Regions from separate parts of the Homo sapiens genome. Here regions 2, 3, 4, 5, 6 and 7 are each linked to region 1. The links come from fine-mapping of genetic effects on gene expression. A gene starts in region 1. Each other region holds a variant in brackets. All regions are shown on one strand. Distances are from middle to middle.

Region 1 (4,064 bases):
CTGTTGAGCAGGCTGGTCTGGAACCCCTGAGCTCATGCAATCTGCCTGCCTCGGCCTCCCAAAGTGCTGGGATTACAGCCACTGTGCCTGGCCAAGTAAATTTTAAACTCATTTTTTGAATAAGGAACCTGAGGCAGAGAGAAATGAATACACCTTATATCAACTTCCTCTTTGGGAAAGGAATTAGTATACAAGGAACCTGGAAATTTACTAACGACTGATAGTCCTATAGGTAAATAAGCCAGCAAACGTCTGCAGTCCAGGAAACTGCATCATCAGCATTTAGTTTGTTAACAGTGAACCACCTAATGAGAATCTGCAACAAGGATAGGGCACATGAGAAGTACAGATGGTATTTGCAAGTACCCTAGGTGTGACCCTAAACTGGTCATTCCACCTCTCTCAACCTCCCTTTCCTCTACTTTAAAACGGGGCTGTGCAACTTGGTCATGTCTCTGAAGAGTTTTGGAAAACTGAATAAATAACGAGCATGAAGTGCTTCCTAAACCTTTAAGGACCTCAAAAAACAAAACAAAACAAAACTTTCAACAAGCAGATGTAGAAAATTTAAATTATATTTGGCCTACAAGTAAAGGTTACTCCATGCTTCCCTACCTCAAATGTCCTCTCCCATCTCTCTGGTACTGAGAAAATCTGTGTCGCCTGTTATAAGGCAGTCTACACAAGACCAACACGCTAACCCACTGCCACCTCAGGGTTATCAAACATTTACACAGTGGCCCAGACAAAAATATCCCACGGAAACAAAACAAAAACAAAAACCCAGAGAGAAAAACCACCCTTTAAAGATTTGGCCTTGGGTTTTAAATTTGCCCATCCCTTTTTAACACTATGTATTGACAATCTTTCCTTCAATGATGCCTTGTTCTAATTTCTGCTTTTCACATCCATTAATGGCACATGATAGGCCAGGGGTTGCTGCCATAGCGTAAACGGAAAAGGTGCCCGTAATTCGGGTGTGTAATGTACTGGGCCATATTCTGGTCCCCAGTTTTCATGGGTTTCCCAAAGGCTACCCACTGGCTTATGAGTATTTCTAGCCCTTAGTGGAGTAAAAATATTAACACCTAACACTTGATTCCCACCTTTAAGATACAATTTAAAGAAATGCTAAAAAGGCAAACGGCTCAAAATGCCTCCACCAGGCACCTCCAGGCCCATACCCTGCGGGTCCCTATGGCCCACTCTGGGGTGTCCTTCCGGGATGGGACACTCCCCGGCCCACGGCCCTGCCGGCCTCCACGGGGCACAACTCAACCCGCGAGTCCACGCGGGACACTCCCCGGTCTACAGCCCCACCGGCCTCCTCCACGCGGCACCCCTCAACCCGGGAGTCCACGCGGGCCACTCCCCGGCCCACCGCCCCGCCTGCCCCCACGCGGCAGGCTCCCTACAGACGGACGCTCCTCTAACCCGGACCCGCCTAGGAGCTCCAGCCGCCTCACGATGGCCTTCAGAGGCCGGGCGGGACCATCTCTGGTGGACCGCGGCCTCAGCGCCCCCCCCGCCTGGGCCTCTCGCCTCGGGCCTCGGGCTTCGCCGCCCACCCGGAGAGGCCCACCCCTGCCCCACGCGCCCAGGCCGCTTCACGTCCTCACCCTCGGCCTCTCGCTCGCCCGCCGCGTCCTCACCGGCCTCGCCCGGCCTCCGCAGTCGCAAGCAGCAGCCGCCAGACTCGCGTCGGCGTCGCCTGCTCCCAACTGCCCGCCGGCAGCCCCCGCGCAGCGCGCCCCGCCCTGACCCCGCCCCCGCGACGCGGACGCGCAGTCGATTGGCCTGCGGGGCGCCAGGGCGGAGCCTTCCCGTCCCGCGGCCTGAAAGCGCAAGATCGAGTTCTGATTGGTGAACGGACGGAGAAGGGGCGGGAGCAGGCAGGCAGCTGCGTAGGATATAAATCTGTGCAGCGCTCGGCTCGTTGGGCGGGGCGTCGGCTTGCTGAGCGAGGCAATGTCCTAGGCGAAGCCAAGGCTCGCTGGGCGGGGCTAGATCTTGGGCGGGGAGTCGGCTCGTTGGGTGGGGCTAGGTCCTGGGCGGGGAGTCGGCTCGCTGGGCGGGGCTAGGTCCTGGGCGGGGAGTCGGCTCGCTGGGCGGGGCTAGGTCCTGGGCGGGGAGTCGGCTCGCTGGGCGGGGCTAGGTCCTGGGCGGGGAGTCGGCTCGCTGGGCGGGGCTAGGTCCTGGGCGGGGAGTCGGCTCGCTGGGCGGGGCTAGGTCCTGGGCGGGGAGTCGGCTCGCTGGGCGGGGCTAGGTCCTGGGCGGGGAGTCGGCTCGCTGGGCGGGGCTAGGTCCTGGGCGGGGAGTCGGCTCGCTGGGCGGGGCTAGGTCCTGGGCGGGGAGTCGGCTCGCTGGGCGGGGCTAGGTCCTGGGCGGGGAGTCGGCTCGCTGGGCGGGGCTAGGTCTTGGGCGAGGTCTAGGCTCGCTGGGCGCGGATAGGTGCTGGGCGAGGCCTAGGCTTGCTGGGCGCGGATAGGTGCTGGGCGAGGCCTAGGCTTGCTGGGCGCGGATAGGTGCTGGGCGAGGCCTGGCTCGCTGGGCGGGGATAGGTCTTGGCCCGGGCCTTGCCGGCTGTCCTTGCACCCTTTGGCTCAGTCCCTGGCTGCCAGCCTCCTCCTTCCTCCAACGCATTGCATCCCTCGTGGGACTACAGGGACCGAAGGGGATCATCGAAGGATCGCGCGAGGCTGTGCTAAGGCTGAGACAGGCTGCTCCGTGGTGGCGGCCAGGACGGCCTTCCTCTGGCCTAGGGACCCCCACCCGAGAATGGAAGACTGACTTGCTGTGGCACACTTCCCTTCTCTTGAGAAGTTCATTGAACTCCTATGTGTTCTTCAAGACCCTACCCATCGTGCTCTCCTAGCCCGGCCCTGTCACCCACTGTCACCATGTGGCTGTTGAGGGAATAATTAACTTCAGGAAACACCCGGGCACTTAAGAGACTCCTCCTATGGTGCTGTGGATTCCAGAGTGAAACCTGACCCTTCGTTTCCCAGAAGCCCAGACAGGAGAAATGCTGGCTCAGGGGAACCTCCATTTCTCCTGAGACAACTATGGGGTCTGAGACCCAGGCACACCAAGACTGGGCTCAGCTGTGCGGGATGCTCCCCTCATGTGCCACCCACCTCTGGGGCTTTTCCTTTAACCAACCCCCAATGACACCACCAGGCCCAGAGTGGTGCACACACCCCAGAACAGAGGATCCCTGCCTGCAGACGGGCAGGGCCGGGTGGGGATAGTGCAGGTGAGAGCCTGGCCAGAGGGTGGTACTGACCCCTGGTAGGATGCAGGGTGTGTGCTGGTGACCTGAGGCTGGCAGTCTGGAGGGAAGGCAGCAGGCGTGGCAGCTGTCAGCTGAGGAACTAGAGAGAGCAAGTTTCAGTATCCAGGGGTCTGTCTATAAGGAAGCTCAGAAAACACTGATAGCAAGGTAAAAGGGGCCCAAGGTGGTCCTGGGATGATCAGTCCAGTGGGCAGGAAGAAGGCTAGAGGCCTTGGAGTGTAGGTGTCCAGCCACCCAGATCAATTCAGGTTTCCAGTTTCCTTTACTCAAGTGGCAGAGCCGCCTTAGCCTATTCTTGAAAATTTATAGGTTAGAAATTTCTTCCTAGATATATTTCAATCATTCACTTATATTTCCAGTAATTTAGTAGTTGCTATTATCAATGCGATTTCTTTTCTCACTACATTTTCTAATTAGAAAATAGATATCACTGACTTCTTAGTGTTAATTTTCACCAGATGTCTTGTACTTTCTAAGTAGATGTTCTGATCACCTGTAAATAATTCCTTTCCAATCTTTTGTGCTTTCTTTTGGGCTGGATCTCCAATACGTACAAACTTGTCCAGTACTGACACTATTGATTCAAGTAATTTTTCTTGATTTTATACAAAGATGTTGTCAAGACTTTGAATTTTCCCAGAAAACCTCACAACTTTCCCTTGCAAATAACCAAGAGAAATACTCATTTAATATCTAAACAATAGTGCTTTATTGATAAAAGGTTAGTTTAAATGGATACAAAATTGCTGTGTAAAATAAGTGTTTTCAA
Region 2 (4,064 bases), 100 kb before region 1:
GCTGATGAGACTTCTCATCACAGGTGCCACCAGTGGGTCACAGGGGAGTCAGGGGAGCAGACTGGCCAAGAGAAGGGTCTTCCGTCCCGCCCCTGCCCCCGCCCCGCCCCGCCCAATCAGCCCAAGGAATACCGTGAGAAGACTCTCAGGGACAGAAAATACAGCAGCTGCCACGCTGCCCCCACCTCTAGATCAATGTCAAACCTGACCCCCAGCAAGCTGGGCTGCAGGCCAGGGATGAGACGGCGGCCAGGGATAGGCCCAGAGGAGCATGCAATTCCTGTGAGCTTCGCCACCTGTCCCCACATGAAGGGTCTATGTGCCCATGCAGAGCGTGGAAGAGGCTTCTGCCACCTTTGGCTTTCCTACCTTTCGACTGTGGCCGATCCTCACAAATCTCTATTAAAAAGGGGACAAACAGTGCATCAAGTGGGAGACACTGGGGAGGAGGGCACCAGCTGGCGAGGGTGGGCTGGAGGGTGGGCAGCTCTTTGCCCCTCCCCGCACAGCCCAGCAACTGGGTGCAAGTGCAAAAGCTTGACGGGTGGCCTCAGTGGCAGCACGTGCTTCTCAGACCCCTGTCACCCTGGCTCCCCAGGAGAGTGGTCTGCCAGGCCTTGCCAGCAGAACCGTCAGTGAATGTGGGGCCGGGGTCTCCCCAGAACCTGTTGCAGCCTGGCTGGGCACACTGGTTCATGAGGTCAGCACAGAGGGGTACTCTGGTGGGAACCTACCTCTGGGTCAAACCAGCAGCCCCTGCATGGTGATGAAAGGGCCATCCTTGCCATCTCGGAGCCCACCTGTGCTGGGCAACAGCCTTGCTATCTCAACTCACACACACAGAATTGAAGCAGAGCCCAGAGCCCTCCCTCCAGAGCCCAGGTGTTGAGGAGAGGCAACAGGAGACACCACGTCAGGGCTGAGGGTGCCCACACGCAGGGGCTGGGCCCAAGGGCTGCCGAATCTTTCTCTGCAGTGACCCAGCCACCAACTCCTCAAGGGCATGGCTCGGTGAGGACCCTGAGGTGCCCCCATCCCAGAGGGCCTTGCCATGCTGCTGGCCCCATGCCACGTCATGACTCACAGGCTTCTCCCAGGGCCACTTGCCACCAGCCCAATTATCCTCAGATGTGACAAGCTGTCATCCTATAGAACCATCTAAAGAATCAACTGATTTTTGTAATATAAAAAGTTACAAATTAAAATTTAGTCTTAATAACAGACTGCTTGGTAGCCATTTTTTTTTTTGTACCAAAGAAACAGTGAACTAAAGAGATTGTCATTAGGTTTCCAAAATAAAATAAAAAGACATCTTTTTTGGAAACAGTCTTGCTGCCAGGGCCCAGAACTAGCCCTCACTTGCAGGCCTCGTGCAGCAGTACGTTTAATATCCTTTGCTGCCTCCAGACCAGGGGGCTCCTTCCACTCCAGTGGGATCCAGGGGGACCCTCAGGGCACCAGGAAGGAGGAGACTGCCCTGCCTGTGCCATCCTACCTGCTGAGAGTCCCAGCATCCCACGGGTAGCCCTGGCATCTGGAAGGCAGGCCTTGGACAGAATATCCTCTGGCCAATTCGGGCCAAAGCAGGAGTGCTGAGGTGTCACAATGACATACCTCCCCCTGTACCAGCACTGACTCCCTCCCTCCTAGAGGCCCCATGGCCTCTTCCCATCCAGCTGCCACTCAGGGACCCCATGTCTCCCTTCTCTGTGGACTCCAGGCCCAATATAGTCTACAAACTCCCTGGACCCTGAGTCTTTTCTTTTAGGGTCCATCTGCAAAACCGTAGCTGTAGGCAGACTCCCCTGGGCTAGGAGAGTGGAGGCCACCCTGAGGCCACAGCATCCCTGCCCCTGGTTGCCCTGTGCCTGCCAGCAGTGAGCTTCTCTGCTCGGTCACTTTCTCCCTGCAGACTCTCAGTTTGTGCCCTTATTCCTATCATCTCTGATAAAAAGAGACCCATAGGGGACACTGCCTCAACTTTGTCATAAAGCCTCACCCCTGTCTGTGGCCCATGTGCCCCCC[T/G]CCCCGTGCCACAACAGCAGAGAACCGCCCCCTCGCCCCAGGTGGCTCCTCCACTGTCTCCAACATCGACACGGGGTCTCCCGCCCAAGAGCCTCTCCAGAACCCAAAGCGGTCCCTAGTGCACCCTCCCTTAGCACCCAGATGTTTCTACACTGGGTCTCCCGCCCAAGAGCCTCTCCAGAACCCAAAGCGGTCCTTAGTGCACCCTCCCTTAGCACCCAGATCTTTCTACACTGGGTCTCCCGCCCAAGAGCCTCTCCGGAACCCAAAGCGGTCCCTAGTGTACCCTCCCTTAGCACCCAGATCTTTCTACACTGGGTCTCCCGCCCAAGAGCCTCTCCGGAACCCAAAGCGGTCCCTAGTGCACCCTCCCTTAGCACCCAGATCTTTCTACACTGGGTCTCCCGCCCAAGAGCCTCTCCGGAACCCAAAGCGGTCCCTAGTGTACCCTCCCTTAGCACCCAGATCTTTCTACACTGGGCCTCCTGCCCAAGAGCCTCTCCGGAACCCAAAGCAGTCCCTAGTGCACCCTCCCTTAGCACCCAGATCTTTCCTCCCAGTTACTCAATTGTCAAAGTAGAAGCTTGACCAAGCAGGGAGAGAAGAAAGGAGCAAAGGAGGGAGGACGGGAGGGAGAAATGAGGAAGGTGGGAAGGAAGGAAGGAAGAGTGGGGGAGGCTGGAAGATCCAGCCTGACACATGGAGCCTGTGGGTTCCAGGGACCGTTTGCTAAATGAATAAGGAAACTCGTTTTTGTACGAAGGAACCTGGAGTCCCAGAGATAAGAGGAAAGTCTCAGGAAGGTTTTGCTAGGGAAGGCGGCCCAGTACCTCCTCTCTGCTCAGGAGGCTGGTAAGGCGGCTGTGAGTGCAGAGCCCTTCCCTGCCCCGCCCCAGGGTCCCCACCAGCACCACCCGAAGGAACAGTGAAAACAGGCCCACCCTGCAACCCTCTGCTAGCTTCTCAGCCTCGAGGGGCCCACCTTGTGTCTGGGCTCCTCGCAGTCCATCCCGGCTCCGCCAGCATCACTGAGGACAGGGCTCAGGAGTGGGGATGAGCCCTGTTCAGCTGGGCCCAAAGGCACCTGAAATGCAGGGCTCAGACTCAGGGGGCTCTTCCGGCTGGAGGGAGAAGGCTGAGGACTCTTCGTGGAAAGGCCTGGAAATGAACGGGGAGGGGGATGGAGCGAGAAATGAGAAAGGGCTGTGAGGCTGGCTTAGAGCCGCTACTACTCTCCTGACCATTCAACCGCCAGCCTCACACAGTGCCAGGCGCTTCCTGTAAAATGTGTATGTACAGCCTCTATCACACACAATTCTAAACATGACATAAAATGAAAATGAGGGTTGATGGTTCATCTACCCAATTTCAGAGAGCAATCCACAGACAGTGTGGATCCTCCCCGGACTCTAGGGGGGCCTGGATACCAACCTTGTGTTTCTAGGGGCTTCTTTTGGGCTCTGCAGAATATGTAACTATGATAAAACTAAGCACCACAAAGTGTGTAAAGCAAAAGGCACCACCAGGACGGGGGAACACTTTCTATGTGCATTGCTAGAGGTTAGAGACTTAAGATGTCAAACCAGGGCTAACATCTGAAAAGACAATGTCTATTTTAAGGCCAAACTTATTATTCATTAAAAAACGGATCATATAAAACTGCTCAATTCATGATACTGTTTTCCAGTTCCTTGAGTTTTTCATTAATGGGGATTTTATTTTGGTTTTCTAAAACACAGTAATAATTTTCCCCTTCTTAAAACCATGTTTGTTTTCGAATAAATAGGTGCCAAATTTGCAGCCCAATTCTAAAGATGATGAAATATATTTCATTGTGTATTTTATAATAAAAAAATCCTTTTCTATTTAAAAAAATTCTCAAAGGTTAATTTCTAATGTTTTTCTATGGGAAACCAGTAACTATTAAGTGCCAAATTTTAAAGATAACTTTACCTCGCTAACACGGTGAAACCCCATCTCTACTAAAAATACAAAAAATTAGCCGGGCATGGTGGCAGGTGCTTGTAGTCCCAGCTACT
Region 3 (4,064 bases), 85 kb after region 1:
GGGCGCGCTCCCTCTGCTTTCTGGAGGTGATTAATTTCCCAACTCCTCGGCACCGCCTTCCCCACCCGAAAAAAGGATGCAGAACCACGCCTGCAGTTGGGTGGGCCTCCCGGGTGCTGGGCGGCCCGGGGCGGCGGGGACCCCAGCGGCGGGGCGGGCGGGCGCTGACGTGTCCAGGCGGGATTGGGCCGCCGCCCTATATAGCAGCCGGGGCCCGGGCGCCGCGCCTCGGAGCGTCCCGGCTTCTCCCGCGCGGGGGGCGAGTAAGCCAGCGGCAGGACCAGCGGGCGGGGGCCCACGAGTGAGCGCGCAACACGGGGCTGGGAGGCCTGGGCGGGCGGGCGGACGGGGCGGGCGGGCTGCCGGGCGGGGGGGTGGGGGGTGGCTGCTGACGTGGAGGCCGCGGAGGGGGAGGGGCCCGGGTGCCGCGGCCCCCACCCGGGCCCCAGGCTGCGGCCCCCGCCCGCGGGTGTCCTGCTTACCGCGCGTGGCGGTTCCGGGCCAGACCTGGGGCCGGCTCCGAGTCTCTTCTGCGCGTGGCCGTGGCGCGGAGGGGCGCGCACAAACTTTCTCAAGTCCGGTGGCGCCGCTGGGCCGCTCTTGGCTGCAAGCTGGGCTCCCCCGCCTCCTCCCGGGGCTTCGGTGGGGCACCCCTGGTGCCGTGGCCGCACGGCGCGGAGGGGCGGCCGACCTGAGCCCAGGTCGCTGACGTTGGCGGGGCCGGCCCTCCCCTCCCCCGCTCCGGCGGGGGCGCCGTGTGCGGCCAGGGTGGGGGTCCCTGGGAGGCCAGCGGGGTCCTTCCCCCCAGGTGGCGGCGGGGCGGGGGTCTGGGCGCAGACCGGGCGGCGGGGCCCCCGCAGCACCTCCACCTGCCGCGCGGGGCCCGCGTCAGTCTACGTGTTCGGGGGTGGGGAAAGCTGCTCTTCTTGGGCCTGGAGTGCAACTTGGACGTGCCCCAGGGTCGTGGATGAAAAATACATTACGGAAAAGTACCGAATTTGGATGAAAGGCGGGGAGGCCGAGGGGTTGCTGTCCCTTTAAGCCTGTCCCCGCCCGCGGGCCCTCGTGGCCTGTGGGAGGGCCGTGCTGAGGTGGCATCTGCGAAAGTTCCTCCATGCAGGATGGGTGCCGACTTCCAGAACTTGGTGAGAAGTGCGGAGCGGAGCCTGCCTTCTGCTCGCCAGTCGCCTGTGGTCTCTCCTAGATTTCGATCTTGTGATCTCTGAGTGGATCAGGATTTTATTTTCCCATTCTGAACTTTGGTTTGTGGTCTTGAGTAATTTTAGTTTTGGAAGAGGAGAAGTCTGGGTTTCAGCCGGAGGCTTTTTTGGTGCCCTCCATACCCGGTCCTGTCTGGTGCTTTAAAGCACTTGCGGGTCTCATTAACTGAGGCTGAAATGAAATTCTTCCTGGAGTATTACTGATAATTCTCTTCGAAGACTGTTGCCCCTTGAATATGTAGTTGGCAAAACTTATCACAAGGGAATCAACTTAATTACTTCCTCGTTTAAAAGCAAAAAAGTAGAACCCCTCATGTGAAGCCTTTTTTGTTGCTGTCAGAAACCTGTTAGACTTGTGCTAAACTTGTAAGCACCAGGTTTCCCACGCAACACACAGCTCTGTCAGGACTCCACGTTTTGCTCTACACGTATTAGGGCGGAAAGGGGTCTTGGTTCCTGCCCTCCTTCCTT[TA/A]GTTCTAGTTCTGTTTGCTGAAAGTTAAATTCTGAGATGTGACCTTTTTTGCTTTGGATGTTTGCACTCTGGGAAACAAAATTAAAAGTCCAGGTTCAGTATAGTTTGAGGTTTACATTAGGTGGACCTGGACACTGATTGATCCGAGCTTCCTATGGGAAAAGTAGTTGGGAGAGCCAGAATCACGAAGGGACTGGGGCCATATGGGAGGGACTGAAGGAGACAGGAGATAGGGCTCACCTACCAGAAGGAGCCTTGGAGGAGAGCGGACTTGTTCTCCATGGCCAGAAAGGGGAAAGAAGTTGTAGATTTTGTCATAACTTGAGGTGGAGCGTTTACAGCCATGCAGGGGTGGACCCGGGCCCTGAGAAGGCCATGAATTTCCTGTCCCTGGTGGTATTAAGAAATGGGATTAGATTAATATCTGAGGTTCCTTTCAATCCTGATTTGGACAGTACTGTTAGATCCAGTGAGAATCTGAGATACCCGATGTTAGCCTCTGTTCTTGGGTATCTAGGCCTGCCCAAGGTATCCTGGGAACTTCAGATAGCAAGTGGAGTTGCCTGGCGCTGTCCTGGGGTTGCTGAAAGATCCACATGGAACAGGATTAAACCCTCGTGGGTGTTGTCTGTGAAGGCAGAGCCAGGAGCAGGGCGTAGCAGTGCGGGGTGGACATGGGGCTGTAGGGTCAGCTTCTTAGGTGCTGCTTTGTTGAACCAGAGGCAGGTGGACCCCTGGGCTGTGCCTCACTGGATTGGGAGCACAGAAGGAGAATGAGACTGACTTTTAAGAAAATCTCACCCAGAATTTCAGGTGGGGACAGGGTCTGCATTTACATGTGGGTCATCAAATGCTTGCTTAAAACGCAGTCTTCGAAAACAGGTTTTTGAGTTGTTTAGAAGAAAAACAAAATGTTGTTTGATGATACCAGAACCCTAGATGTTAAATGTGTCTCTAGTTGTGAACCATTCGTTACACGCTCTGACAAACTGCCACTTGGAATCTGGAGGCTAGGGACCCAGTATAGCCTGTCAAACCAGTCTGGAGTTTTCTGGAGGTCTGCCTTCTGCCTTACCTGGCTGCCTGAGGGTCTGTGCACGCCTGAGGAACATGAGAGGCTCTGCTCCAGGGTCTCCCTCAGACACAGGAGTAGGTTCCCTTATGTTGAGACTCCTTTCAGTATAGGGTCCGGCTGGACTTGGCTTCTGAAGGGTGTGTGAGTGGTCTCAGAAGAGACTGACACTGGGTGCACAGTGGGGATTGGCTCATCACAGCTCCGTGCTGGAGAGTCGGTGCGGGCTGACATGGACGGAACTGCATTTTGCAGACTTCTAGTGTGGCTGTCACTGGGCACTAGAGACTTGCCCAGAACCTAGCTTGATAAGGGGGTGGGTGTCTGGGTTTAAGAAGTGACATTGGAGCCCGGGACAACCTTGAGTGAGAGACCATGCCAGGTGAGAGTCAGCAAGCAAGCGTGGGAGGGCGGAGGGTGGATGCGGGAGACCAGAGGCAAGTGTCACTGGACACCTGTTGGGGCACCTTAGCCTGGAGTGCCCTGCCCTGTTTTGCTCCCAGACTGGACAGACACTTGGAATCTCAAGGAGCTCTTGCCGAGTTGTGAATGTGCTAATCTGACACTTTGGAGAAATTTTCTTACTTTAATCTTTAAAACTTGCAAACTAGAATTTTGGTGATGCTTTTAAATGGAATACTCTTGATCAGTTTGTCCCAGCTTTCCCCTTCAGTCTTGGGGTACATCTGTGTGTCTGGTGCATCTGGGGCCCCATAGTGTCTCTGGTTTGTGGCAGGTTCCCTGTGTGACTCAAGCCCTGTATTTAGAGTTTTTAAAAAACTCATGACCAAGATTAGAATCCAGAAATACCACCAGTCCACATCCTCTGCTGGAAAGGCGAGACCCTTTAATCCAGTCTACTGGATGCTCCCCCATTGCCATGAACCGCCTTCTCAGCTCCGGACCCATGTGTCGTAAGGGCAAGATTATTGTCACGGTACGAGTAGTCTTCTCCAGTTGAGTGGGGTGTTCCTGTTACTGTCATTGCTTTTCCCATTTTAGACACATGCCTCACTCCTGTCAGCAGTTCCACCTTTTCATGGTTGAGGAGCACATGTGGTCGCCAGCCTCCCATCTCCAGAGTCCCCTAAGGCAAGGTGACTCACCCTCCTACTTCACAGAGTTCTTGGTCCTCCCCAGACAGCCTTTGAAGGTTCCTTTCAATCCTGCGATTTCATGACCTGGTTTCTAGATCCCCAGTGGATTAGAAAGGACTGAAGGACTTTTACAGGCTAACAGCAAGAAGAACAAAGTAACTGCAAAATAGACGGAGAATTCTTGAAGACGGTAGCTCTTGGTC
Region 4 (4,064 bases), 100 kb after region 1:
CTCTCGATTTGTAAATCCTGGGGCCTGGACACAGTGCAGGTGCCCAGGTTTGGGGAGAGCGTGCCTCTGAGCCCCAGGTGAGCAGCCTGGCTTTCACTGTGACACGACCTTGAGCTCTGCAAACCCATGGCTGTTCTCCCATTTTCTTAGGCCAATAGCTTCACCGTCTCCTCTGTCGCCGCCCCTTCCTGGCTTCACCGTTTCATCATTGGCAAGAAAGGGCAGAACCTGGCCAAAATCACTCAGCAGATGCCAAAGGTAAGGACACGTTTTTCACCTGTTGTATTGAATTTGTCTTGTTTTCTGTCTTTCTGTTTCTGATATTGCTTTGTTGACCTTTGTACTGTGGATGCCCTTGAAAACTGGTGTATTTTTCTGAATTAACTGGCCTGTTTGACATGGTCAACTTCCGTGTTAGCTTAAAGAACAGCAGAATAAATGTCTGTAGATGTCTGTACCATCCTTCTGGCCTTTAACCAGAGAGGATTGTATGTTCTTAGGTTTCATAAGTATCTTAAGAAACATGTCATTTAGTAATTATGGTGAAATAACTTCATGATACTTTGGCGGGCCGGGTGCGGTGGCTCATGAGGTCAGGAGATCGAGACCATCCTGGCTAACATGGTGAAACCCCGACTCTACTAAAAATACAAAAAATTAGCCGGGCTTGGTGGCGGGCACCTGTGGTCCCAGCTGCTTGGGAGGCTGAGGCAGGAGAATGGCGTGAACCCGGGAGGTGGAGCTTGCAGTGAGCCGAGATGGCACCACTGCATTCCAGCCTTGGCGACAGAGCGAGACTCTGTCTCAAAAAAAAAAAAAAAATACTTTGAAGAGCAGAACTTGTATACAAATTGTATTAAGTGTGAATTTAAAGCGTTCTCAGTTTACCAAAGGAGATTGTAGCCCCCAGGAAACATGAACAAAAAAGAAATACCAGAGAATCCAACCATCATATTTAATTCCTGTTTTATTTAAACTTTGTTTCCAATTAATGTTACAGTCCTTTTTAAAAATTAAATTTTTTTTATTTTATTCCTTTTTTTTAGTGACAAAGCCTCACTCTGTCACCCAGGCTGGGGTGCAGTAGCGCAGTCATAGCTCACTGCAGCCTTGAACTCATGGGTCAAGTGATCCGCTCGTCTCAGCTTCCCAAGTAGCTGGCACTACAGGCGCCCCAGGCTAGTTTTCGTGGAGGCAGAGTCTTACTAGTTGCCCAGGTTGATCTCGAACTCGTGGGATCAAGTAGTCCTCCTACCTCAGCCTCCCAAAATATTGAGGTTATGGGTGTGAGTCACTGTGCCCAGCCCCTTTTACTTTGTATAGCTTCATATAAGGACCAGTCTGCCTTCCTTAACTCCTTACCTGGAGGATAATAAACCAGGAACTCTGGCAGCCTTGTCTATGTCAAGCAAGTTACTTTACCACCTTGGTACAGCTATACGAGTTTTAAAATTCCATCCGTGCTCTGTCTCATTCTTTATGCAACTCAAGAGGACCAGGCCTTGTAAAAGTTCAGATGGTGGAGGAGCATGTCGCATGTCGCATGCTTTATGTTAGTGGCTTCTGTGGGGCAAACGGTGTCCTTAGTGAGAGGCAGGATTATTCGGCCACAGTATTTAGTTTCCTGACTATGGCTCCCTAACCCTCCCTTTCAACTTTGTTTGATGGCTGTGGATATGTCCCTCCCTCCCTCACATCTATGTGAAGCAGTTTGGGATCAGAAGCCGCTCCGAAGAGAGCTCCCACTGGGAGCTCAGGGGCTGCAGCTGTGCCATTCTGTTTTAGCTATCTCTTTGGTTTTGGTGTGGTAGGTTCACATCGAGTTCACAGAGGGCGAAGACAAGATCACCCTGGAGGGCCCTACAGAGGATGTCA[A/G]TGTGGCCCAGGAACAGATAGAAGGCATGGTCAAAGATTTGGTAAGGTACCCCTTGGAATGTTGTGTGTGCTGGTGACAAGGGAGGCTCTGAGTTGGGCATGGGCGGTCATCTCTCGATGACATCCCACATGTCCGGGCACAGACACCCAGGGCATCCTAGCTGGGTGAGTAATAGGTTCTGAAACAACCAGAAGCTGGTCGAAGTCCTGGAATAATCGTGGGTGGAGGAAACTTCATCTTGAAGAAGGCATCTTTCAGGGGAGATGCAGGGGCAGTCTCCAACAATTCCTGACAGCTGAGTGGTCAGAAAAGGCAACCGTGGAGACTGCTGGGTTTTGGTTCAGCTCATTGGCCAAGTAACCAGGCGCATCCATGGACCTCTGTGCTCCTCCTGCAGATTAACCGGATGGACTATGTGGAGATCAACATCGACCACAAGTTCCACAGGCACCTCATTGGGAAGAGCGGTGCCAACAGTGAGTGAGGCTGTCTGTTGCGGTGGGGCCAGTGTGCCCTGAGACCCTTGTGGGGGGTGTCAGCTGTGAGAACTGTGACGTCCGTGCAGACAGTCCAGGCCCATTGCTGCCTGTAATGGGAGTTACAGACTTTACATCCTCCTGCCTGCTGGAAGAGGCCACTTTTCCTTTTCCCTTTGGTGCAGTGGTTGGATTAGAGCTGCTTGGCCAGTGGGTGAATTGTCACTTTTGGAAATCCATCTAAGCCCTCCCCAAATAACCCACAGAGGCCATGTTGAAGGCATGCCCAAGGGCAGCATTCTCTATATTTCCGTCAGACCTGCTAGGTTAGCCAATCAGTGTTGGTAGTACTCATGCCTTCTGAACGTGGAAACTGCTGATCTGGAACTCACTGAAGAGTAAAAACATTCTAGATTTGTGCCCAAGTAAAACAACATGGGGAGGGATACTTTTTTGAGACAGGGTCTCACTCTGTCACCCAGGCTGGAGTGCAGTGGCGTGATCTCAGCTCACTACAACCTCTGCCTACCGGGCTCAAGCAATTCTCCAGCTTCAGCCTCCTGAGTAGCTGGGACTACAGGTGCATGCCACCACAGCCAATTAATTTTTGTATTTTTAGAAGAGACGGGGTTTCACCATGTTGGCCAGGCTTGTCTCAAATTCCTGGGCTCAGGTGATCTGCCCACCTTGGCCTCCCAAGGTGCTGGGATTAAAAGTGTGAGCCACCACACCCAGCAGGGGGATTCTGTTGAAGAGGCAGTGATATGTCAGCCAAGGTCGCTATATGCCTCACCTGTGCCAGGTTGTAGGTGTAGCACAGTTACAGGACACTGTTGGAAGTATGTCATGTGGGCCAAGGTCGCTGTGTGCCTCACCTGTGCCAGGTTGCAGGTGTAGCACAGTTACAGGATGCTGTTAGAAGTGTGTCGTGGGCATTCTGCTGCAGGTCCAAGGATGTTTTGTGTTGTTTGTTTGTTTTTTGGGACGGAGTCTCGCTCTGTCACCAGGCTGGAGTGCAGTGGCGTGATCTCAGTTCACTGCAACGTCCACCTCCCAGGTTCAAGCGATTCTCCTGCCTCAGCCTCCCAAGTAGCTGGGATTACAGGCGTGCACCACCACACCCAGCTAATTTTTTTGTATTTTTAGTAGAGATGGAATTTCACCATGTTGTCTAGGCTGGTGTCAAACTGCTGACCTTAGTTGATCTGCCCACCTCGGCCTCCCAAAGTGCTGGGATTACAGGCATGAGCCACTGTGCCCAACCAAGAATGTTTTTTTACACCTCTTTGTTTAACTGTATGGCTATACTCACACACTCGCGTGTTCTGAAAACAAGTGCACACGTCGCGTGTGTTACCTTTGGGTGGAAGGTGAGAAGGCAAGCACGTCCTCCATTCCTGGATAGTTCAGTGGATGAAGGAGCCTTTCCCAGGTAGTGGGACACCGACCTGCATAACATGACTGACGTCCGTGTATCCGTTTTTGTTATGAGTAAACATAGCCTTGGCAGCTGTGCTGTGGCCTGTGCAATGGTGAGCTCTCTGGTGTCAGTCTTATGTTTTGTGGGCATTTTACGTGACAGCGACGAGAGTCTGTAGGCACAAAGTGACCTTTTTGCGCACTACTTGAACCACACATACACCATAAACTTGCTTTTACGGTTTTGTTTTGGTTTTGGTTAACTGTAGCGTTTGTTTAGGCCTGACACGGTG
Region 5 (4,064 bases), 150 kb before region 1:
GAGAGAAACGCCAGAACCCTCTCGAAGAAGGAGGGATGTGAGGAGGTCAGGATAGTCACCTGTGCTGAGCCATCATGGAGAGTGAGGGCCTGTAAGGGTGGACACAGTATGCAGGAGGGACAAATCTTCCTCACCGGACAGGTGGGGATCCCTGCGGTGCACTAGGGGAATGCACACAGGGGGCACTATGACCTGGCGGCCCACGGGGCACGGGGACGCACCAGGTAGCCTTGGGATCTGCAAGTCCCTCCCGGACCCTGGGGAGTGCCATGACGGCTTCCAGCAGCAGTCACTGTCCTGGGCGCGTCCCGCGCTCTAGCCCAGGTGGGTCCCACAACGGTGTGACCAAGGACGTCCTATGACCACCCCTTGACAGGTAAGGAAACTGAGGCAGGAGAGGCGAAGCAACTCGCCCAAGGAATGGGCTGTGCCGGTAGCTTCTCCAAGGCCTGGTGCGCCCTGGCCTGTGCGCGTGATCCCGGGCGGGGTCTCAGTACGAACAGGGGCTTCGCGATGTGGCCAGCGCGGGCTTATCTCCGTGCCGTGACGACAAGGCTAGAAGCCTGGGCGGCCGCGGTGGATCCTCGTGGCGAGGCGGGGAGGGCGCCGGGCCTCACTGGCCCGCTCGAACCAGGGCTGCGCAGGGCAGAGCCCAAGGGAGAGGGCCGCGCGGCCGCCGTAACGTCGGAGACGACGCCTGGCAGGCGCCAGCAAACGCAGAAGACCCGCGAGGGCGAGGCAGGGAGGGCGCGACGCGACAACGACCACGTGCCCCGCCCGCCCAGGCGCGCGGCCTGCCGGGAGACGCAGTCCAAACCTTTCGGGAGCAGGACTAGGGGTCCCAGAGAGCCTCGCGGCGCGCATGCGAGCCCCGGCCCCCTCTCGCGCAGCCTGCCGGGACTTGTAGTCCAACGCCAGCAGGCTTCCGGGCCCGGAGTGGGCGGTGGGACTCGGGGTCCCAGAGAGCCGTGCGCGGGCCGCGACGCCGAGCACCGCCCTCGCCGTCGCCTCCGGGCTTTCTCCGGTCGCTGCCGCCACCACCGTTGCTTCGCGGGCTGGGAGGCCCGGGGTCCCCGGGCGAACAGAGGCTGCGGGTGGGAGCCTTCGCGGGCGCTGCAGAGCGGGCCGGGGGAGGCCGGGATGGAGCCCCGCGGAGGTGGGCGCGCTGCCGGGCGGGGCGCTTGCGGCGATTGGGGAGGGGGCAGAGGGAGGGGCCCGGGGCGGGGCTCGGTGGCGGGGACACCGGGGCGGGGGCACCGGGAGGAAGCTGCCTTGGAAGAGGTGGGGGCGGCGACGGGAGGGGCGGCGAGCCCCCGGGAGCCTGGGCGTTAGGCCCGGGCGTGGCGGGGCCCCGGCGGCCTGGGGGGTCTCCTGGGCCCCCCCCCACCCATGGAGCCCGCCGCCCCGGAGGTCGGTCTCAGATGACTGAACTGGGCACCGAGCGCCCCTGGTGTCCCTCGCAGTGGACTGACGCCGCAGGGGCGAGCTAGCCGGCTCCGCGCCTCTCCGCGGGATCCAGACGCCTCCTGGGGCTGCTGGCGGAGGGTCTGAGGCGGCGCGGCCATGGCTCACCTCCGGGGATTTGCCAACCAGGTGAGAAGGGTGCAGGTCAGGAAGACTAGCGGCCTCTCACCGAGGGGCTCCAGAGTCTCCTGGGGGTTCAGAGGGGAGCGCCACGCCGGAGCGGGCAGTGGGGTGAGGGAAGGAGCGCGCGTCGTGCGACCAGCGGAGCCGTCCTGAGGTGGGCGCAGGGCGGCCCCGGGGCTCTGCCGTGTGCCTGTGGCGTTTTGCGTGGCAGAAGCTCGCAGGCCTCTAGAAACCGAGCCCCTGGTGGCTCCGCCTGTGCGAGGGCGGTGGAGGTGCGTGAAGAGACACCGGCGCAGGGACGGGGCGCTGCCCCCAGCGCGGGGCGGGAACCTCATGTCAGCATCCGAAGGCAGTGGAAGGTCGGGGGCCACCCTGCGGCCTCGGCCTGGGCCGCGGGTCATTCTGGCCGTGTTGGGCTGGGCAGGGGCTGTAGGGGAGACCCTGGCGGGCGCTGAGGGGCTGAGATTGTGGAGAAGCAGATCTGAGTGGCCGGTGTGCAGGGAAAGCAGAGAACACGTGTGTGCTTTGGCCCAGGGGAGGGTGAAAAGGCTGCTCTGTCAGGACCGTTTAACCCCTGCGACGGGCGGTTGCCCGAACATGAGACTCATCTTTCTTCTTTAAAGAAGTCGTTTCCACTATGGAGCCACCTTTAAGCGTCTGGTGGGACAGCCTCGGAGGGAGCCAC[T/C]ACGGCGAGCCCTTAGCCTGGAATGAGGACCAGCTGCTGGTGCCAAAGGGCTTGCCGGGGAAGGAGGGTGGGGTCAGCCAACCTGGGGCCTGGGGACTTGCATTCTCTACCCCTCCCCACTTTTTTGACTCTGGCCGCTGGGTTTTCTTACATCTTAGCTGTTCGGTTTTATTCTCCTTGATGCCTTGGCTCTACCTAAGGCGTTGGAATCGCCGCTAAAATGTGTGGCCCTCCTTGTTCACTCCTATGTGCTGAATGGAGAGTTGGGCCTGCAGTGGAACAGGAAGGGCGTCTGTTCGCGTAGGGGCAGGAACTGGAGTCAGGGCTGCTTTGGAGGAAACCGGACCAGCCTAGAGACCCGGAACACCATGTGCAGCTGTTGGGCCAGGCAACCTGGACCTGCGTGGTCACAGATGAGACTGGGGCTTGCTGACTGTTGCTGAATTAAGCTAACAGATTTTTGGTTTGCTTTTGGCATTCTGTATCTGGTAACTTACATGACTAAGGTGCTGGGAGAAAAATCTGCCACCAGTTTATTTTACTTTATTTTTATTTTTTTGAGACGGAGTTTCGCTTTTGTTGCCCAGGTTGGAGTGCAATGGTGCAATCTCAGCTCACTGCACCCTCTGCCTCCCAAGTACAAGCGATTCTCCTGTCTTGGCCTCCCAAGTAGCTTGGATTACAGGCATGCGCCACCATGCCCAGCTAATTTTGTATTTTTAGTAGAGACGGAGTTTCACCATGTTGGTCAGGCTGGTCTCAAACTCCTGACCTCAGGTGATCTGCTTGCCCTGGCCTCCCAACGTGCTGGGATTACAGGCATGAGCCACCGCGCTCGGCCACCAGTTTATTTTTAAGAACTGCAGAAATAACTCCTTTGGGTCACAGGATGAGAAATTGGAGCTCCGAGGTGCCCTGTAACTGTGTGCTATTGGTTCTTGGTGCGATCGCACACAGGGAAGGGAGTGCGGGCACATTGGAGAAGGGATTCCAAAGGTAGGAAGCTCCTTTTGTCCTTTTAGGGATCCCTTTGTCCCAGCCTGGATGATGAGAGACTTGACTTCATATAGTGGCAGAAAACCTGAGGGGCTGTGGTTTTCTCCTGAGATGGTTGCCATGGTGTCCTGTGGACCTGTGGGGCAGCCCCTTTGTGGGAGAGTGGGGCGCGTTCCCCCCATAGCCTGTGCTCCTGCCTTAGACTTCTCCCCTCTACCTGGCCAGTTCCTGCCTGGCCCTGGAGGGCCCGAATGGCTGTGGGGTGCCAGAGCACTGTATCACCACTCAGCTATGTGTGCTGGGTCATTCCCCTTGTTTTGTGGGGCAACACTGACAGCAGACACATTGGCAAGTGGAGGCCCCAGACCTGGCAGCCCCAGGGCTAATGTGGAGAACAGGTGTCCACCGCTCGAGTCAGCTGAGTGGCCCGAGTGATCATCCAGGCCACAGCTGCTGCTACATCCAAAAGAGGATTCGCAGCCTCCAGGCCAGGGGCCCACTTACCCTTTCTTCTCCAGGTGGGGGTGGGGATGGCTTGCCTTGGCTTGGCCTGCGATGTCATTGTAGGGCCAGGATCACAGCCAAGAGGGTTCCTGTCACACAGTTTCTGCTTGGGCTGATGAGCCCTGGCTCTGGCTTAGGGGTCCGCTGTGCTCCCCTGCTGTGAAGCAGTAGAGGTCTGAGTGCCCACCCAGGGGTTTCCCTACCGGGGCTGCTGTGATGGAGCAGATTCAGCTCCAGGCCCTGTGTGGAGAGCAGCATGGCCTCAGCAGGGAGCAGGGAGTAGAGCAGGGCG
Region 6 (4,064 bases), 39 kb before region 1:
ACATTTGGGTTGGTTCCAAGTCTTTGCCATTGTGAATAGTGCCGCAAGAAACACACGTGTGCATGTGTCTTTATAGCAGCATGATTTATAGTCCTTTGGGTATATACCCAGTAATGGGATGGCTGGGTCAAATGGTATTTCTAGTTCTAGATCCCTGAGGAATCGCCACACTGACTTCCACAATGGTTGAACTAGTTTACAGTCCCACCAACAGTGTAAAAGCGTTCCTATTTCTCCACATCCTCTCCAGCACCTGTTGCTCCCTGACTTTTTAATGATCGCCATTCTAACTGGTGTGAGATGGTATCTCATTGTGGTTTTGATTTGCATTTCTCTGATGGCCAGTGATGATGAGCATTTTTTCATGTGTTTGTTGGCTGCATAAATGTCTTCTTTTGAGAAGTGTCTGTTCATGTCCTTCACCCACTTTTTGATGGGGTTGTTTGATTTTTCTTGTAAATTTGTTTGAGTTCATTGTAGATTCTGGATATTAGCCCTTTGTCAGATGAGTAGGTTGTGAAAATTTTCTCCCATTTTGTAGGTTGCCTGTTCACTCTGATGGTAGTTTCTTTTGCTGTGCAGAAGCTCTTTAGTTTAATTAGATCCCATTTGTCAATTTTGGCTTTTGTTGCTATTGCTTTTGGTGTTTTAGAAATGAAGTCCTTGCCCATGCCTATGTCCTGAATGGTAATGCCTAGGTTTTCTTCTAGGGTTTTTATGGTTTTAGGTCTAACGTTTAAGTCTTTAATCCATCTTGAATTAATTTTTGTATAAGGTGTAAGGAAGGGATCCAGTTTCAGCTTTCTACATATGGCTAGCCAGTTTTCCCAGCACCATTTATTAAACAGGGAATCCTTTCCCCATTGCTTGTTTTTCTCAGGTTTGTCAAAGATCAGATAGTTGTATCATCACTCTAGTTTAATTTTTTAATATATCATTTTTAAAGTACTAAACATAAAAATAGATAATTTGTAGGCCATATGTTTCAGGAGGGCAGAAACCATATTATGAACTTTGATCAATAATTAGATCACCACACTCTTGGAGACTTTCAACAGAAAGAATTATCCCTGAGGACAGAATCCCAGGTAGTTCCTGATACTTCAACTGAAATTATTGGAAAACAAACAAACAAACAAACAACAACAACAAAAAAACAACTGTCAGGAGAGCCCTTTTTTCCCCCCACATAGTAGGCACTCAGATGTCTATTAATGAAAAAACAAATCACTTCATAACTGGAAGAAACATTTCTGTTATGACCATAAATACTGAAGTCCAACCTGACATAAGTTATTAAAAGGTGGGCAATTCAACATGACCAGAAGTAGCAGGCAGTGTGTGAGGTACAATGCAGGCCACAAAGAAAGGCTCTGCAAACCAGCCAGGTGACCACAGGGATCTGGGCCATTCTTGAGCTTCTCTGCAATGGCATAAATGCATGGTTTCCAAGGATGTCAAGAAATCTGGGAAGAGGCTGACCTGTTATTTTTCAAACCTAAAGAAGACCAAAATAGAAAAAACAGATTTAATTTGAATAGCTAAATGTAAGGAAGAATTGATGGTCAAAATGATAAATATAAAATAAGGTATAGAGATATATTTTTAGCTCTTTGAACTTTTTGGTATATTGTATAATCATCTCTAAAACAGTACCAACAGCCATTAAGCCAAGGGTCAGTCATCCTCTGCTCTAAGTAGAAGAGGAGCAGATATTCTCCAGGCCCTTTGTGGCTCCTGAGTTGATCACAAGGAACAGGTTTCCTCACACCGTCCTAAGGGCAGAGGCTTTGGAGTAGGAATCCTGGTTTCCACTTGGTGGGTATGCTTAGGCTCGGCTTCCTCAATTGAAGAACAACACAACTCTTACCCTGAATGGGTTTTATGGGAGTGTAATAAGGTAGCACAGGAAAGCCGCTGAGCACCATGCCTGGCACACGGCCTCTCCAAGTCCAATACTGCTGCTCGCTGTCTGCCCACACAGAACAGTGTGAGCATCACCAGAAAACATCACACACAG[C/T]GAGGGCTCATGCCCCTCCTGAGTAGGGAGTAGGGTTCATTCGGGACAGGTCCTCAAGCGTGCAAAACAGCTTCTTAATAAGGTCTACAAAAAGTAAGACCACAGATGAGAGGGAGAGCCCTTTGATTCCATGATGGGTGCATGTTACTCAACACAGCATCCAATAATTTCTTTTTCCTGCCAACATGTAAAACATATTTTAAAAATCAAAATATTTTCCATAATGTACTTTAAAGAAACCAAACTTTTTTCAAGAATTCTTGCCAAAGTAATTTTCCACAGGTTCACTCTCCATAATTTGTATAGATGCCTTACGACCTGGACAGTAGGTCATAAAGTGTCATAATCAGTTCTATTTTCAGTGTCACTTGTATCAGTCACATGTCTTTTTTTTTTTTTTTTTGAGATGGAGTCTCGCACTGTCACCCAGGCTGGAGTGCAGTGGCGCGATCTCGGCTCACTACAAGCTCCGCCTCCTGGATTCATGCCATTCTCCTGCCTCAGCCTCCTGAGTAGCTGGGACTACAGGTGCCCGCCATCACGCCCAGCTATTTTTTTGTATTTTTAGTAGAGATGGGGTTTCACCGTGTTAGCCAGGATGGTCTCAATCTCCTGACCTCGTGATCAGCCTGCCTCGGCCTCCCAAAGTGCTGGGATTACAGGCGTGAGCCAAAGCACCTGGCCCACATGTCCACTTTTATCCTTTCAAATCTTCTCGACTTAAAACATACCTTCTGGTCCTAAAAATACAGAAATTCACTATCAGGTGGACTACAATAATCACTGCATGTTCCCAAAGTACCAAATGATCAGATGAAACAAGATTCTCCCTGCACTAGGTCGGAAGGGCCTCACAGCCAGTTAGAGCACTGGCATCATCCAGATGCTCAGAATGGAAGAAAACCCCGCCATCACACTGTGCTTCCTGCTGAACTCAACATTGACTCAAATCAGAACTGTTTCAATACTAGGCTGGAGGAGAAACAGTATTAAGAACATAGTATAAAAAATACAAGTTAAAAAGCAAAACTTTTTGTTCAGTGTTTCCAGTTTTCTAGTTGGTCATGGTGTTAAGGTCCTTTTCCAGGCTTAGGTATAAACAATATTGTTAAAAACTTACATTTACAAAACTATTAAAGGTTGTGTCTAGATGAAAATGGGCGACAAAGGCCTGGCTAACAAAGTACTTCTTTATTCTTTGTCTTAAGCTCTGTGGGAAAATTCTTCTTGAAACAGCTTTTGTCCTTTAACTTGTTTCATGTGCTCATTTACAGTTCATTTGCCAAATTATAACTCCTCTATCTATCTAGATGGCCCCTCCTATTATATAATTCATATCTGTACTGTAAGTTTCATTACTTAAGATTTTTATTGCCTAATTAGATCAATCCCAAATTTCCTTTTATAATATTATACTGTACAATGAAAATAATCTTGAGCGCTCAAAAGGAAACTGTAGCTACATTCTTTGAAAGGTCACCAACATTTTTGATAGGCATTTCACTCTCATTTTGGCACATTTTCAAATCTTGGGTTCTCACATATTCCTAAAATACTGTACACCAAACTTCTACTCCAAATTGCACTAAGAACCATAAGGAGGCCGGGTGCAGTGGCTCACGTCTTTCATCCCAGCACTTTGGGAGACCGAGGCGGGTGGATCACCTGAGCTCAGGAGTTTGAGACCAGCCTTACCAACAAGGTGAAACCCTGTCTCTACTAAAAATACAAAAATTAGCCGGGTGTGGTGGCAGGTGCCTGTAGTCCCAGCTACTCAGAAGGCTGAGACAGGAGAATTGCTTGAACCCAGGAGGCAGAGGTTGCAATGAGCTGAGATGCCACCACTGCACTCCAGCCTGGGCAATGGAGTGAGATTCCATCTCAAAAAAGAGAGAGAAAAAAAAGAACCATCAGGAGTAGCGTTAAATCTCAGCAAAAAGATGTTAACTGCTACTTCTGCTTTTTTTTTTTCTTTTTTGAGATGGAGTCTCGCTCTATTGCCCAGGCTGGAGTGTAGTGGTGCCATCTCGGCTCACTGCAACTT
Region 7 (4,064 bases), 110 kb after region 1:
GCTCCATGAAGGACTGTGCCCAGGGCTCCCTGGTGTCCCCTTGTGTCAGTGGGGAGTTGCTCGCCGTGCTTGTGATAAATGACATCTACTTTAATTGTATTTTTAGGAAAATGAGCGTACCAAGGATCTAATCATTGAGCAAAGATTTCATCGCACAATCATTGGGCAGAAGGGTGAACGGATCCGTGAAATTCGTGACAAATTCCCAGAGGTAAAGTTTCCCAGAGACATTCTGTAACTCTATAGGAGTGATCCAAGTCACACTTCAGGAATATTTGATATTTGGGATATATGTCCTTCCTCATACTTGAACTTAGTCTCCCCATGATTTGTTCTAGGTCATCATTAACTTTCCAGACCCAGCACAAAAAAGTGACATTGTCCAGCTCAGAGGACCTAAGAATGAGGTGGAAAAATGCACAAAATACATGCAGAAGATGGTGGCAGATCTGGTAGGGGTGTTTCACATCCTTTCTTGTATGACAGCACCTGGGGTGGGTGGGGCATGCGTCCTGTCAGAAGTCCTGACCCCCACAGGACCCCTGCTCTGGGGAAAGCACATAGGCCCTGGGCTGGCCTTCCATCTCAGGGACTTGGGACAAAGTGGTGACGGCTTCTCACTTAATACCTGGATGTTTAGATTGGCAGTCATTGTTAAGACTGCAGTGTTTGTGGAATTCAGGTGGGGAGATTTGCCTTTTCTCATGCCCAGTTACCTTGTTTCCTTGAGGAGTCTTCAGATACTTAGAGAAATTGTCCCATCCAGTAAGATAAGAGGTATAACAGGTGACATGAGGAGTCATATACTGATTTATTATTTTTCTCAAAAACTGACGTGGGAACAGGTTTAGAAAGTGTAGTGAGTAGTGGATGAGAAGGCCACAGGCAGCCATGTATTTCCGTGGGCTTCACCTTAGCTGATGGCTGCCCTGGGAGAGGCGATGGTGAAGGACTCCAGCACTGTGAGCTGCTGTCACATCACTGCCGTGAGTGCAGAATTGCCCAGAGCGTAGGGGTCCGTGCTGTCTCCATGTGTGTTCTGAGCCCCTTCCTTAACCAGCTCTGATCCTGGCATGGGACATGAACTCTCTCTTAGCCAAAAAGTAGACTTGCATCGATTGACTGTAATTTGCAACGTAAGTTAGTTGTTGGACAAATGATCTATCTCACTTACCCTCATGACAAACCTCTGAAGGTTTGTTTGCAAATACCAGTGCTCTGTCGTGTTCATGCTACCCTTAGGGGTAGAAGGGATACTGTATTTTACTCTCTAGCACAGGTGGTGAATCGGGCTGTGTTTTTTGTCTTTAAGGTGGAAAATAGCTATTCAATTTCTGTTCCGATCTTCAAACAGTTTCACAAGAATATCATTGGGAAAGGAGGCGCAAACATTAAAAAGGTGATAACTTGTCCGCTGCATCTTGCTTCTTCTTGCCTTGTCCTCTGTAGCCCTGCACCATTTTGGTTTTAGACTAGGAGGGACTCTTCCTTACTTCTAGCCCTGTGCTCAACTGTGTCTCAACTCTGGGAGAGCTCTAGTCAGCTTCTCATGGTGATCTCTCTCCCTGTAGATTCGTGAAGAAAGCAACACCAAAATCGACCTTCCAGCAGAGAATAGCAATTCAGAGACCATTATCATCACAGGCAAGCGAGCCAACTGCGAAGCTGCCCGGAGCAGGATTCTGTCTATTCAGAAAGACCTGGTAATGGGAGATGTTTTCTAATGGAGATCCTCCAGTAAAATCTCTAACAGCCTCTAAGATTGAGCCTGGGGTTGAGTCACGCAGGGTCATTGGGCCAGCGCAGGCTGATGTGGAAGATTGCACCTTTCAATCCAGGCTACTGATGAGTTGGTCAGCAGTTTTCTGCCTTTGTCTCTCACGATACTTACTTACCTGGACCCTGCAGCAGTAACATTTGACGTGGGCACTTGTCTTATTAGACATTTTCTTCTTGTTACCTGAAAATCTTATCTGAAGGTATTTACGGTATTTTCTTTCCTTTAAAAAAAATTGACATGCAGTAAATTGTACATATTTACAGTGTACA[A/G]TGTAATAGTTTTGACGTGTGTATACATCCATGGAATCATTCCCACCATCACCCCAAAAATGTCCCATGCCATTTTGTATTACAGTCTCCCTCCATCCCACTTGGCAGCTCCTGAAAACCACACTCCCCCCACCCCCACTTCTATCCCCAGGCAACCCCCAGTCTGCTTTCGGCCACAGTAGATGCTTTTGGATTGTCTACGCTTTTGTGTGAATGGAATCATAACATCTACTCTTTATTGGGCCCATCTGCTTTCACTTTGCAGGATATTTTGACATTTGTGTGTGTTGTCACCTGTATTGTTGGTTTGTTCTTTTTTATTTCAGGATAATATTGCACTGTAGGGATAGATCATCTGTTTCTTTGTGTGTACTTGGTAATTAGTGTCTTTCAAGGGGTTTTCTATTTTCTCCAAGGTGTCAAATGTATTAACATGAAGTTTTTTAGAATAGTCCTGCATTATCCTTTTGCTGTCAATACTGACGTCACCTCTCTTTCACAGTATATGTAATCTGTGCCATTATAAAATGATGCCTTTTCCCTGGTAGTATGCTTGGCTCCAAAGTCTATGTTATTTTTTTCCCCCTTATATTTAAAATTTTTTTGGAGATGAGGTCTTGCTGTCGTCCAGGCTGGAGTGCAGTGGTGCAGTCATGGCTCACTACAGCCTTGGCTTTCCAGACTCAAGCAGTCCTCCCACCTTAGCCTTCCAAGTAGCTGGGACCACAGGTGCATGCTACCGCACCAGGCTAATTTTTTTCTTCTTTTAGTTAGTAGAGATGAGGTCTTGTTATGTTGTCCAGGCTGGTCTCAAACTCCTCAAGTGATCCTCTCGCCTTGGCCTTCCAAACTGCTGGGATTACAGGTGTGAGCCACTGCACCCAGCCTCCTTTATATGATACTAAAGTGAGTTTCTTTTTGGCAGCTTGCTTTTTAAATTAAATCTATCTACTAATCCCAGCACTTTGGGAGGCTCAGGTGGGCGGATCACTTGAGCTCACAAGTTCAAGACCAGCCTGGGCAAAACCCCGTCACTACTAAAACTACAAAAAGAATTAGCCAGTAATGGTGCTGCATGCTTGTAGTCTCAGCCACTCAGGAGGTTGAGGTGAGAGGATGGCTTGAGCCTGGGAGGTGGAGGTTGCAGTGAGCTGAGATTGCGCTGCTGCACTCCAGCCTGGGCCATAGAGCCAGACCTTGTCTCAAAAAAAAAAAAAAGAAAAAAGATTATGATGTTTGCATTTAATTACAGTTGTGATTATATATGTTATATATCACATATTTATATTTATTACATATGTTTAACAAACACGGTTAAATAACTTACTGTAATTTTTTTCCTCAATTGTGGTAAAATATACATAGCAGAATGTATCATTTTAATCGTTTTTTAATGGTTAATTCAACTGAGTACATTCACAAGGTTGTGCAACCATCACCCTGTCCATTTTCAGAGCATTTCCATCATCTTACACAGAAACTACACCCATTAAACAGCAACTACCACCATCCCCACGTGCTCAGCCACCATGATGTCATGATTTTATATGATTGGCTTTCAGTCCACCATTTACATTATTAACCTTTAAAAAAAATTCCATTATTTTTTAAAGAGATTTAAATAATATGAAAAAATGTATGTATTTATCCACACAGTTGCCATTTCTAGAGCTCTTCATTTCTTGGCGTGATCCTTGTCTTCATTTTCCTTCTGTCTGAAGGAAACCACTCAACATCTCTCGTAGTGTGTATCCGGTAATGACTTCTTTCACATTCTGTATGTCTGCAAGTATTTTTTTCCTTCACTTTCGAAAAGCTGTTTCTGCTGCATAAAGGTTTCTAGGTTGGCAGTTTTTTTCCTTTCCAGACTTGGCTTCATTGCCGTCTCCTGTTGTTTCTGATGAGAAAGCTGATGGTGCCCCTGGCTTTGTTCCTCTGTCCATGACAAACCTTCTCCCTCTGGCTGCTGTTAGGGTTTTACCACCGTCTCTGAGCAAGTTAGGATGTGTCTCTGT

Direction of the effects. Alleles are on the strand shown, and positions count from the first base shown. SD is a standard deviation of normalised expression in the study named. Not every link is listed here.
As copies of G replace T in region 2, the expression in sigmoid colon of the gene that starts at base 1,723 in region 1 goes up (moderate effect, 0.47 SD a copy in GTEx).
In carriers of allele C in region 6, the expression in skeletal muscle of the gene that starts at base 1,723 in region 1 tends to be lower than with T alone (small effect, 0.34 SD a copy in GTEx).

The links.
Region 2: its variant is fine-mapped to the expression of FARP2 in sigmoid colon (GTEx, PIP above 0.99). The same link has a PIP of 0.9 or more in aorta, coronary artery, esophagus mucosa, esophagus muscle, gastroesophageal junction and lung.
Region 3: its variant is fine-mapped to the expression of FARP2 in whole blood (TOPMed, PIP above 0.99). The same link has a PIP of 0.9 or more in blood mononuclear cells.
Region 4: its variant is fine-mapped to the expression of FARP2 in whole blood (TOPMed, PIP 0.98).
Region 5: its variant is fine-mapped to the expression of FARP2 in hippocampus (GTEx, PIP above 0.99).
Region 6: its variant is fine-mapped to the expression of FARP2 in skeletal muscle (GTEx, PIP above 0.99).
Region 7: its variant is fine-mapped to the expression of FARP2 in whole blood (TOPMed, PIP 0.98).

What each region holds. Positions count from the first base shown.
Region 1 is chr2:241,353,944-241,358,007 of GRCh38, reverse strand. FARP2 (FERM, ARH/RhoGEF and pleckstrin domain protein 2) reads right to left here and starts at 1,723. Exons shown (of 27, transcript NM_014808.4): 1 at 1,620-1,723. It overlaps SEPTIN2 (septin 2), which reads right to left. Exons shown (of 13, transcript NM_004404.5): 13 at 3,981-4,064. RefSeq lists a silencer at 1,386-1,935.
Region 2 is chr2:241,455,866-241,459,929 of GRCh38, reverse strand. It overlaps FARP2 (FERM, ARH/RhoGEF and pleckstrin domain protein 2), which reads right to left. Exons shown (of 27, transcript NM_014808.4): 14 at 3,008-3,183. Among named protein-coding and RNA genes, the nearest start is that of MIR3133, 20 kb to the left of the region's middle. The variant T/G (reference allele first, on the strand shown) is at 2,026.
Region 3 is chr2:241,268,998-241,273,061 of GRCh38, reverse strand. The region is part of intron 1 of HDLBP (high density lipoprotein binding protein); the gene reads left to right. HDLBP-AS1 (HDLBP antisense RNA 1) reads right to left here and starts at 898. Exons shown (of 2, transcript NR_168372.1): 1 at 1-898. RefSeq lists silencers at 5-284, 555-864 and an enhancer at 1,005-1,084. The variant TA/A (reference allele first, on the strand shown) is at 1,692.
Region 4 is chr2:241,251,245-241,255,308 of GRCh38, reverse strand. HDLBP (high density lipoprotein binding protein) reads left to right here. Exons shown (of 28, transcript NM_005336.6): 9 at 151-258; 10 at 1,812-1,916; 11 at 2,274-2,352. Among named protein-coding and RNA genes, the nearest start is that of HDLBP-AS1, 19 kb to the left of the region's middle. The variant A/G (reference allele first, on the strand shown) is at 1,876.
Region 5 is chr2:241,505,535-241,509,598 of GRCh38, reverse strand. STK25 (serine/threonine kinase 25) reads left to right here and starts at 1,015. Exons shown (of 12, transcript NM_001271977.2): 1 at 1,015-1,156; 2 at 1,464-1,593. The coding sequence starts at 1,564. LOC107985788 (a long non-coding RNA gene) reads right to left here and starts at 727. Exons shown (of 2, transcript XR_001739177.2): 1 at 502-727; 2 at 1-161. RefSeq lists silencers at 611-1,380, 1,661-1,710 and enhancers at 2,141-2,190, 3,346-3,882. The variant T/C (reference allele first, on the strand shown) is at 2,273.
Region 6 is chr2:241,392,877-241,396,940 of GRCh38, reverse strand. All of the region lies in intron 2 of FARP2 (FERM, ARH/RhoGEF and pleckstrin domain protein 2), which reads right to left. Among named protein-coding and RNA genes, the nearest start is that of FARP2, 39 kb to the right of the region's middle. RefSeq lists a silencer at 3,730-3,789. The variant C/T (reference allele first, on the strand shown) is at 2,021.
Region 7 is chr2:241,244,391-241,248,454 of GRCh38, reverse strand. It overlaps HDLBP (high density lipoprotein binding protein), which reads left to right. Exons shown (of 28, transcript NM_005336.6): 13 at 107-211; 14 at 339-452; 15 at 1,313-1,399; 16 at 1,572-1,703. Among named protein-coding and RNA genes, the nearest start is that of HDLBP-AS1, 26 kb to the left of the region's middle. The variant A/G (reference allele first, on the strand shown) is at 2,050.